Linked DNA regions of Homo sapiens: region 2 is linked to region 1. Evidence: fine-mapped expression QTL. A gene starts in region 1. The other region holds a variant in brackets. All regions are shown on one strand. Distances are from middle to middle. Region 1 holds the start of JMJD6 (jumonji domain containing 6, arginine demethylase and lysine hydroxylase). Region 2 has its middle 16 kb from the start of ST6GALNAC2.

Region 1 (5,310 bases):
GGATATAGCTCTCCCTGAGCACATATCCTACTGTAGAGAGGCAACGAGCAAGCAAATAAGATATTTCTAGTCAGGGGCCGGGCACGGTGACTCAGGCCTGTCATCCCAGCACTTTGGGAGGATGAGGCGGGCGGATCACCTGAGGTCAGGAGTTTGAGACCAGCCTGGCTAACATGGTGAAACCCCTGTCTCTACTAAAAATACAAAAAATTAGCCGGGCATGGTGGCACGTGCCTGTAATCCCAGCTGAGGCGGGAAAATCGCTTGAACACGGGAGGCGGAGGTTGCAGTGAGCCGAGACTGCGCCACTGCACTCCAGCCTGGGCAACATAGTGAGACTACGTTTCAAAAAAAAATGGCCGGGCGTGGTGGGTCACGCCTGTAATCCCAGCACTTTGGGAGGCCGAGGTGGGTGGATCATCAGGTCAGGAGATCGAGACCATCCTGGCTAACGCGGTGAAACCCCGTCTCTACTCCACTAAAAATACAAAAAAATTAGCCGGACATGGTGGTGGGCACCTGTAGTCCCAGCTACTCCGGAGGCTGAGACAGGAAAATGGCGTGAACCCGGGAGGCAGAGCTTGCAGTGAGCAGAGATCTCGCGACTGCACTCCAGCCTGGGCGACAGAGCAAGACTCCAACTCCAAAAAAAAAAAAAAAAAAGGAAAGAGGCTTCTATTCTCACAGGCAATATCATCACCCCCTACATTTAGGAAGAAATGCAAGTGTATTTAAACGTGAAGCCAGCCGGGAGCGGTGGCTTACACCTGTAATCCCAGCACTTTGGTAGGCCGAGGCAGGTGCATCACCTGAGGTCAGGAGTTCAAGATCAGCTTGGCCAACATGGCAAAACCCCGTCTCTACTAAAAATACAAAAATTAGCCAGGCATGGTGGTGGGCGCCTATAATCCCAGCTACTTGGGAGGCTGAGGCAGGAGAATCACTTGAACCCACGAGGCGGAGGTTGCAGTGAGCTGAGATTGTGCCACTGCACTCGTCTGGGTGACAGAGCGAGACTCCATCTCCAAAAAAAAAAAAAAAAATCCGTGAAGCCAGATTGGGTGTGGTGGCCAATGCCTGTAGTCTCAGTTACTTGAAAGGCTGAGGTGGGAGGATCACTTGAGCCCAGAGGTTGAGGTTGCAGTTAGCAAAAAAAAGTGAAGCTGTTTGGAAACAATCAGAAATAGCCTCCACTCCAGTCTTTTTTTTTTTTTTTCTTCTTGACAATGTCTTGCTCTGTTGCTCATGCCTGAGTGCAGTGGCCTGATCATAGCTCACAGCAGCCTCGACCTCTCGGGCTCAAGCAATCCTCCCACCTCACCCTCCGGAGTAGCTGGGGCTACAGGCACAAGCCACGATGCCTAATTTTTCTACTTTTTGTAGAGACGTAGTATCACTATATTGCCCAGGCTGGTCTGGAACTCCTGGTCCCAAGCGATCCTCCCGCCTCCGCCTCCCATTTAACTTCTCTAAAGCTGTTTCTTTAGCATGGGACATGCCTCACAGGCTGGTGTTAAAACCAAATGAAATACTGCAAAGTGAAAGTGCTTTGAAAAACCGAAGACAGGCAGGGCATGGTGGCTCACTCCTGCAATCCCAGCACTTAGGCAGGCGGGAGGATCACTTGAATCCGGGAGTTGGAGGTTGCAGTGAGCTGTGATCGCGCCACTGCGCTCCAGCCTGGGCGCCAGAGCGAGACAGTGTCTCAAAAAAAAGAAAAGAAAAAGAATTATTATTGAGAGTTTTGTTGTAGCTGTGAGCTTAGAGGAAGAAGCGAGGTCCAACCCAAGAAACACTTTGGGCACCAAATAAAACTGGAAACCCTGATCCCAAAACTCACACAAAAGTGAGAGATAAGGATGAATCAAGAAACCCTTGGACAAGATCAAAAGAAGCATTAGAGGTCAGTCAAGAATGTCACTTTCCTGGCAGGAAAGATTCGATGTGGAGAAAGCCGGCCCGGCGCAGTGGCTCATGCCTGTAATCCTAGCACTTTGGGAGGCCGAGGCAGGAGGATCACTTAAGCTTACAGTTCGAGACCAGCCTGACCAACATAGTGACCAGGGTCACTTCTTGGCAGGGTCTCCAAAATTCTTACTGAGAGACATTTAATGCACCGAAGGGCTTCATATCCGACGTTTTTGCTCCGGGGGTCAACCTAAAGCAGGAAGCTGCGCAGCTGAGCGTCCGCACCCCCGGTCCCTCAGGAACCCAGCCAAGTCAGCCGACATCCGCTCCTGACCTCAGGCGCCTCCTGGCGGGTGCTGCTGCACGCACCTGCGGGACGTGGACCTCCAGGACAGCCCCGTCGGCCCCCGGACCCGGCTCCTCCGAGAATCGAAAGCGCTGGGCCCGGACCCCCTGTCCTCGGAAATCGTGCTCGCCCAGTAGGGCGTCGTTGGGCCCCGGGCGGGCGGGGGACCGCGGAAGGCTCCGGGCTGCCAGACTGCGCGAGCGGGAAGCCGCGGGCCACGTGGCCGTAGCACCTGACGGCAAGAAGGGGAAAGCCCAGATCTGGTGATAACCCTGCCGCGCTGCGAGCGAAGAAAGCCCGGAGCAAGGCGAAAGAGACTCACACGCGCAGAACTGGCAACGGGCGGCTGGCGCGACCGGAAGTGATGGGCACAGCGGCAGCGCGGGAGGGGAGGGGCGGGGCGGGGCGGGGCGGTGACGCAGCCGACGTGACCTTCCCAACATGGCGGAGGCCCGCCGTATGTGAAGGAGTACCCCAGGGGAGCCAAAGCCAATGGAAAACCGCGAGAGGCGTCGGGGCGGGGAAGACGGCGGCCGCTTGCCCAACCCGAGGCTCGGGAGGTGGCTGGGGAGTGAATTTTCTGGAAGGCGACTTTAAAGGCGCCGGGACTGAGCGAAGGGCGTTTGGGTACTGCCGTCGCCGCCGCCCAGGCCGGGGAGGGGTGCGTTAGTGTCAGGAAGCGGGCTGCGCCGAGGTCGTAGCGGAACCAGCTGGCGACCCCGCAGAATGAACCACAAGAGCAAGAAGCGCATCCGCGAGGCCAAGCGGAGTGCGCGGCCGGAGCTCAAGGACTCGCTGGATTGGACCCGGCACAACTACTACGAGAGCTTCTCGCTGAGCCCGGCGGCCGTGGCGGTGAGCGGGTCGGGCGGGGGTGGCCAGGCCGGGCATCGGCACCTCCAGCCGCTACGCACCTTTCTCTGGGCCCGAGGCTGCCCTCGCCCCGAGCGCCCGGGACCTCGTAGAGGCTCACCCGCACCCCGCGGAGTTTGGGGTCCCCGAGGCGCGGATTCCGGGGCGGGTCTGCTTCCTCCCGTGCTGTGGCCGCCCGTCTGCTCTGGCGGACGACGGGAGTCCCACGCCTGTGGCGCTCTCAACTAGAAGGCCCGTCGTCCCTGACTCCTTTGGGCGGCGGGTCCCCTAGGGGACCTGGCTGTCAAGGCTCATGGGGGGTGGCTCTAGGAACGACGTGGCCTCACGCACGCGCCCTGCCCCCACCCCGGAGGAGCCAGACGAGAGTCAACTTCCTTCGGTTTGTCATTACCAGTTGGCCTTGGGGACACCCTTATCTGCCACTGGACTTTTTTTTTTTTTTTAACTGGACAGGTCTTTTTTAATTCCCTCAGGATAACGTGGAAAGGGCAGATGCTTTACAGCTGTCTGTGGAAGAATTTGTGGAGCGGTATGAAAGACCTTACAAGCCCGTGGTTTTGTTGAATGCGCAAGAGGGCTGGTCTGCGCAGGAGAAATGGACTCTGGAGCGCCTAAAAAGGAAATATCGGAACCAGAAGTTCAAGTGTGGTGAGGATAACGATGGCTACTCAGTGAAGATGAAGATGAAATACTACATCGAGTACATGGAGAGCACTCGAGATGATAGTCCCCTTTACATCTTTGACAGCAGCTATGGTGAACACCCTAAAAGAAGGAAACTTTTGGAAGACTACAAGGTGCCAAAGTTTTTCACTGATGACCTTTTCCAGTATGCTGGGGAGAAGCGCAGGCCCCCTTACAGGTAAAGTATTCTGCAGCTAAGTGGTTAAAATCCTTTTCTTTTTTTTTTTTTTTTTTTTTTGAGACAGAGCGTCACTCTTGTAGCCCAGGCTGCAGTGCCGTGGTGCGATCTCGGCTCACAGCAACCTCCATCTCCCGAGTTCAAGCGCTTCTCCTGCCTCAGCCTCCTGTAACTGGGATTACAGGCATGCGCCACCACACCCAGCTAATTTTGTATTTTTAGTAGAGACGGGGTTTCACCATGTTGGTCAGGCTGGTCTCGAACTCCCGACTTCAGGTGATCTGCCCGCCTCGGCCTCCCAAAGTGCTGCGATTGCAGGTGTGAGCCACCGCGCCCGGCCTGTGGTTAAAATCTTATCTACAACAGCATTTGCTCGCTGAGTTCAGTTGCTAATCTTTTTTGGAAACAGTGAGTACTCCCTCGGCTGTACATTGAACTCATTTAGGGGGCTCCTGAGGCCTGCCTGGGCCCTACTGGGGAGACTGATTTAATTCGGGTGATGCCTGCGCATCAGAATTTCTGAAAGCTCTTCAGGTGACTTGAATGTGCAGCTATGGTTGAAGCACTGATCTCTAAGGGAGGTTTTAATAAAGTCCAGCAATAAACCACATTAGTGATTTTTCTTTTTTTTTCTTTTTTTTTTCTTCATTGAGATGGAGTCTCCCTCTGTCGTCCAAGCTGGAGTGCAGTGGCGCAATCTCAGCTCACTGCAGCCTCCGCCTCCCGGGTTCAAGCAATCCTCCTGTCTCAGCCTCCTGAGTAGCTGGGATTACAGGTGCCCACCACCACACCCGGCTAATTTTTGTATTTTCAGTAGAGATGGGGTTTCACCGTATTGGTCAGGCTGGTCTTGAACTCCTGACCTCAGGTGATGCACCCACCTCTGCCTCCCAAAGTGCTGGGATTACAGGCGTGAGCTACCGCCCCAGCTGATTTTTCTTATTTTGTTAGGAATCAGTCCATGAACAATGCACCCAGTGTTTCTGTGTACCAGAATTTATATAATCTCTGAAATAAAGATGACATATCACATAAAATTAAAACCTGGCCAGGTGCGGTGGCTCAAGCCTGTTATTCCAGCACTTTGGGAGGCCGAGGCAGGTGATCACTTGAGGCCAGGAGTTCGAGACCAGCCTAGGCAACATGGTGAAACCCTGTCTCTACTAAAAATACAAAAATTAGCCAGGCGTGGTGGTGTGCGTCGGTAATCCCAGCTACTCAGGAGGCTAAGGCAGGAGAATCACATGAACCTGGGGAAGCAGAGGTTACTGTCAGCCAAGATCACGCCACTGCATTCCAGCCTGGGTGATAGAGCAAGACT
Region 2 (5,370 bases), 130 kb after region 1:
GTGGGAGGATTGCTTGAGACCAGCCTGGGCAATATGGCAAAACCCCTTCTCTATTATTTAAAAAAAAAAAAAATTAGGTGGGGCACAGTGGCTCACACATGTAATCCCAGCACTTTGGGATGCCAAGGCAGAAGGATCATTTGAGGTCAGGAGTTCGAGACCAGCCTGGCCAACATGGTGAAACCCCGTCTCTACTAAAAATACAAAAATTAGCTGGGCATGGTGGCGGGCACATGTAATCCAAGCTACTCAGGAGGCTGAGGCGGGAGAATTTCTTGAGCCTGGGAAGCAAAGGTTGTAGTGAGCAGAGACTCCGTCTCAAAAAAAAAAAAAAAGTAAAAAAAAAATTATTTAAAAAATCATAGTTCCCATCTCTGTCTCTCTTTTTTTTTTTTTTTTTTTTTGAGATGGAGTCTTGCTCTTGCCACCCAGGCTGGAGTGCAATAGTGTGATCTTGGCTCGCTGCAACCTCTGCCTCCTGTGTTCAAGCAATTCTCCTGCCTCAGCCTCCTGAGTAGCTGGGATCACAGGTGTGCACCACCACGCCTGGCTAATTTTTGTATTTTTAGTAGAGACGGAGTTCCACCATCTTAACCAGGCTGGTCTTGAACTCCTGACCTCAAGTGATCTGCCCACCTCAGCCTCCCAAAGTGCTGGGATTACAGGTGTGAGTCACCGCGCCCAGCCCCATCCTTTTTCTTGACTCCTTCCAGCTTAGACCAAAAACCCCAAGTGCAAGTTCAGGCTTCCAAACTCTACGGCCTCTGATATGGTTTGGATGTGTGTCCCCTCCAAACCTCATGTTGAAACATGATTCCTAATGTTAGATGTGGGGCCTGATGGGGGGTGATTCGATCATGGGGTAGATCCTTCATGAATGGCTCAGCAACATCCCCTTGGTGATAAGTGAGTTTTGCTCAGTTAGTTCATGCAAGGTCTGGTTGTTTAAGAGTCTGGGACCTCTCCCTTCTCTCTATTGCTCTCTCTCCAAGTGACATGCCTGCTCCCACTTCACCTTCCGCCATGAATAAGAGCTCCCTGAGGCCTCACCAGAAGCCAAGCAGATGTGGGCACCATGCTTCCTGTACAGCCTGCAGAACAATGAGCCAATTAAACCTCTTTTCTTTATAAATTATCCACTGTCAGGTATTTATAGCAATGTAAAAACAGACTAACAGCCTCCAACTATGTCCTCTTCCCAAGGAGTGCCCTTGCAATGATTCAAAGCCTGGGCCAGGAATTGAGTGTTTTACCGGTGGGTAAACCATGGCTTATCCATTAAACGTTGCAGCATAATTTATCTTTCAACAACCCCAGTCTCTCTTTCTCTTCCGCCTTTCAGAGTCACTGGTGCAAGGGCTCACACAGTTACTCACGGATTTAACATTATTTTTCCTCTTTTCTCACATGCCTGGGACTTAGACAACTAATTCAGCTGTTTTAGAGGATTTAAAAGGTTAAAGTACAGATCTAACACGTCTCGCAATTCTCTGCTTCTGGGTCAGCAGTTTTTTTGGGTTTTTTGTTTTTTTTTTGAGACAAAGTCTTGTTCTCTCGCCAAGGCTGGAATGTAATGGCACGATCTGGGCTCACTGCAACCTCTGCCTCCCAGGTACAAGTGATTCTCCTGCCTCAGCCTCCCGAGTAGCTGGGATTACAGGTGCCTGCCACCACACCTGGCTAATTTTTGTATTTTTAGTAGAGACGGGATTTCGCCATGTTGGCCAGGCTGGTCTCAAACTCTCGACCTCAGGCGGTCCGCCTGCCTTGGCCTCCCAAAATGCTGGGATTACAGGTGTGAGCCACCATGCCCAGCCTAGGATCAGCAGTTTTTGATCTTGTTCTTTTTTGCAGTGAGGAGTAGGCAAAGGGTCCAAAAGTTGCTCCTGGGTCGAGGGTGCATTGGAGAGATCAAGAGAGATTCAGAAGCAGGACAGATATTTGTGTTAGTAATGTTACAGGCACTTCAACCAGAGTGACTCCATCTTGAATAGGGACTGGGTAAAATGAGGTTGAGACCTGCTGTACTGCATTCCTAGGGGGTTAGACATTCTTAGTCATAGGGTGAGATAGGAGCTCGCAAGATACAGGTCACAAAGACCCTGCTGATAAAACAGGATGCAGTAAAGAAGCCAGCCAAAACCAAGATGGCAACAAATGTAACCTCTAATAGTCCTCACTGCCCATTATATGCTAATTATAATGCATTAGCATGCTAAAGTCACTCCCACCGGCACCATGAAAGCTTAGAAATGCCATGGCAACGTTCAGAAGTTACCTTATATGGTCTAAAAGGGGGAGGAAACCTCATTTCCAAAAAATCCCCACCCGTTTCCTGGAAAACATAATAATCCACTCCTCGTTTAGCATATGATCAAGAGATAACCATAAAAATAGCCACCCACTGGGAGGCGGAGGCGGGTGGATCACAAGGTCAGGAGATTGAGACCATCCAGGCTAACACCATGAAACCCCATCTCTACTAAAAATAAAAATAAATAAAAAAAATAGCCACCCAGCAGCTCTTGGGGCTGCTCTGCCTATGGAATAGCTATTCTTTTGTTTCTTTACTTCTCTAACAAACTTGCTTTCACTTTACTCTGGACTCACCCTAAATTCTTTATTGCATGAGATCCCAGAACCCTCTCTTGGGGTCTGGATTGGGACCCCTTTCTGGTGATAGTAATGGAAAGTCTAAAGTGTACTCAGAGGATAGTGTTGCATTCATGCTGGTCTCCATGGCAGTCCTCACATGTCCTGTTGACTGTATGTATTTATTTTTGAGAGAGGGTCTCACCCCATCACCCAGGCTGGAGTGCAGTGGC[G/A]CTATTGCAGCTCTCTGCAGCCTTGAACTCCCAGGCTCAAACGATCCTCCCACCTTAGCTTCCTGCATATGTGCCACCACACCCAGTTAACTTTTTTTCTCTCTTTTTGGTAGAGACAGGGTCTCACGATGTCGCCTAGGCTTGTCTCGAACTCTTGGGCTCAAGCGATCGGCCCACCTCGGCCTCCCAAAGTACTGGGATTACAGGCATAAGTCACTATTCCCTGCTTTGACTGGTATTTAAAGGAAAGCTTAAAGTCAAACATTGTGTTCACAGAAGGAGAAAAGTACACTGTACCAAGCTTGAGGATTTATACTTATCTACAAAATTGTTTGCAAATCGGTTTATACAAAAATGTGGCATTTTCTGGATTATCACATACTGGGTGGGCACAAAGAATAGTTCTGTGTTGGCACTGGGGAACAGGGAACTAGAGGCCTGACCCCGACCCCCTTCACATACACAAACACACACACACACTCACACACACACACTCACGCACACACCAGCTTCCTCAGAATCTCAAGGCAGGTTGGGTGTGGTGGCTTATGCCTGTATCCTAGTATTTTGGGAGGCCAAGGCAAACGGATTCCTTGAGCTCAGGAGTTCAAGACCAGTCTGGGCAACATGGCAAAACCCCATCTCTACTAAAAGTACAAAAATTAGCCAGGTGTGGTGGTGCGCATCTATAGTCCTAGCTACTCAGGAGGCTGAGGTGGAAGGATAGCTTGAGCCCAGGAGTTCAAGACTGCAGTGAGCCATGATCACGGCGCCACTGTACTCCAAGCTGGGTGACAGAGTAAGACCCTGTCCCCCCAGCCCCACCTAAAAAAAAACTCAAGGCAAATAGCACACCCAAGGTGATGCACGATATGGTGTCTACCCTTAGCTGAGCGCGAGGGCAGGAAGAAACAGGGTCTGCACGCCCTGCCATTTTGCACAGACACAGCACTCCTGAGCGTAGGAGGAGATGAAAGACAAACTCTTGACACAGCCAACCCCAGGCATGGGTGGAGAATTCCTCTCTTACAGATTCATCGGACTCGTCTAACCTTGCTCGTTGCTTCGGGGGTATTAGAAAACAGCAATGAGTATCATTGTCTCAGAGTCAGGGGCTAGTGAAATCAGGACCATGTCAGGCGATACAATTTGGGTACAGAAGAGAGGCTTGGCAAGAAAGGGGTTTGGGCCAAGGGAATAGGTAGGTTTCTCACTTAGGCAGACACCATTTAGACAACCAGAGCAGAATCATTCATCACAGTGCTTAGCTGGGCGTGGAGACACACATCACTTCTGGCTGGGGGCATTTGTGAATGTATAAATATACCCACGCGTCTCACAAGAAACTTGTCCTCTTGCCAAATTGTTCTCCAGCTTCTCATGTTAGAAACAAGAGAGAGTCCAATGTTAGGTTAATTCTCTTTCCCTTCTACGGAAATGCGTTTGCCCTTGGAAGCTTGCAACACTTCCTTTTTTTTTTTTTTTTTGAAATGAAATTTCCCTCTTGTCACCCAGGCTAGAGTACATTGGGCCAATCTCAGCTCACTGCAACCTCCACCTCCCGGGTTCAAGCGATTCTCCTGCCTCAGTCTCCCAAGTAGCTGGGATTATAGGTGTCTGCCACCATGCCCAGCTAATTTTTATATTTTTAGTAGAGAAGGGGTTTCGCCATGTTGGTCAGGCTGGTCTTGAACTCCTGACCTCAGGTGATCCGCCCACCTTGGCCTCCCAAAGTGCTGGGATTACAGGCATGAGCCACCGCACCCGGCCCAAGGATGCTTATTATTATTATTATTATTATTATTATTGAGATAGAATCTTGCTCTGTCACCCAGGCTGGAGTGCAATGGTGCGATCTCAGCTCACTGCAACCTCTGCCTCCCGGGTTCAAGTGATTCTCCTGCCTCACACTCCTGAGTAGCTAGGATTACGGTGCGCACCACCACACCCAACTAATTTTTGTATTTTTAGTACAGACGAGTTTTCACCATGTTGGCCAGGCTGGTCTCAAACTCCTGACCTCAGGTGATCGGCCTGCCTTGGCCTCCCAAAGTGCTGGGATTACAGGCGTGAGCCATTGCGCCCGGCAAGGACACTTATAATTGTTTGATTAAAGTTCCCACCTGGTCCTTTCCTCATTCTCCTTCAGTAGGAGACAGTTCTGGGTGTCTCCTTTCCTTTGGTCTCCCTTCCTCTGGTTGTGCAGTCCTCCCAAATTAGCCATTCTCTTTTAACCTGCTTACAGCTTTGTATTTGCCCAGCAACCAGGTCCAGCATCTAGAGTTTTTCAAGAAGTATGTGATGGCCAGGCACGGGAGCTCATGCCTGTAATCTCTTTGGGTGTCTGAGGCAGACAGATCGCTTGAGCCCAGGAGTTTGAGACCAGCCTGGGCAACATGGCGAAACCCTATCTGCACAAAAAAATACAAAAAACTAGCTGAGTGTAGTGGTGCATACCTTAGTCCCAGCTACTCAGGAGGCTGAGGCAGGTGGATGATTGAGCCTGGGAGGTCAGTGAGCTGGGATGGCACCGCTGCACTCCAGC

The links. PIP is the estimated chance that this variant, and not a neighbour inherited with it, causes the effect.
Region 2: its variant is the best candidate, but not a certain one, in a credible set for the expression of JMJD6 in whole blood (TOPMed, PIP 0.63).

Annotation. Positions count from the first base shown.
Region 1 is chr17:76,724,146-76,729,455 of GRCh38, reverse strand. It overlaps JMJD6 (jumonji domain containing 6, arginine demethylase and lysine hydroxylase), which reads left to right and starts at 2,850. Exons shown (of 6, transcript NM_015167.3): 1 at 2,850-3,109; 2 at 3,601-3,989. The coding sequence starts at 2,981. METTL23 (methyltransferase 23, arginine) reads right to left here and starts at 2,617. Exons shown (of 5, transcript NM_001080510.5): 1 at 2,278-2,617. RefSeq lists enhancers at 1-431, 1,089-1,717, 2,348-2,977 and silencers at 2,237-2,686, 2,797-2,926.
Region 2 is chr17:76,598,747-76,604,116 of GRCh38, reverse strand. No RefSeq gene overlaps it. Among named protein-coding and RNA genes, the nearest start is that of ST6GALNAC2, 16 kb to the right of the region's middle. RefSeq lists enhancers at 1,265-1,811, 1,812-2,359, 1,686-2,885 and a silencer at 2,736-3,030. The variant G/A (reference allele first, on the strand shown) is at 2,826.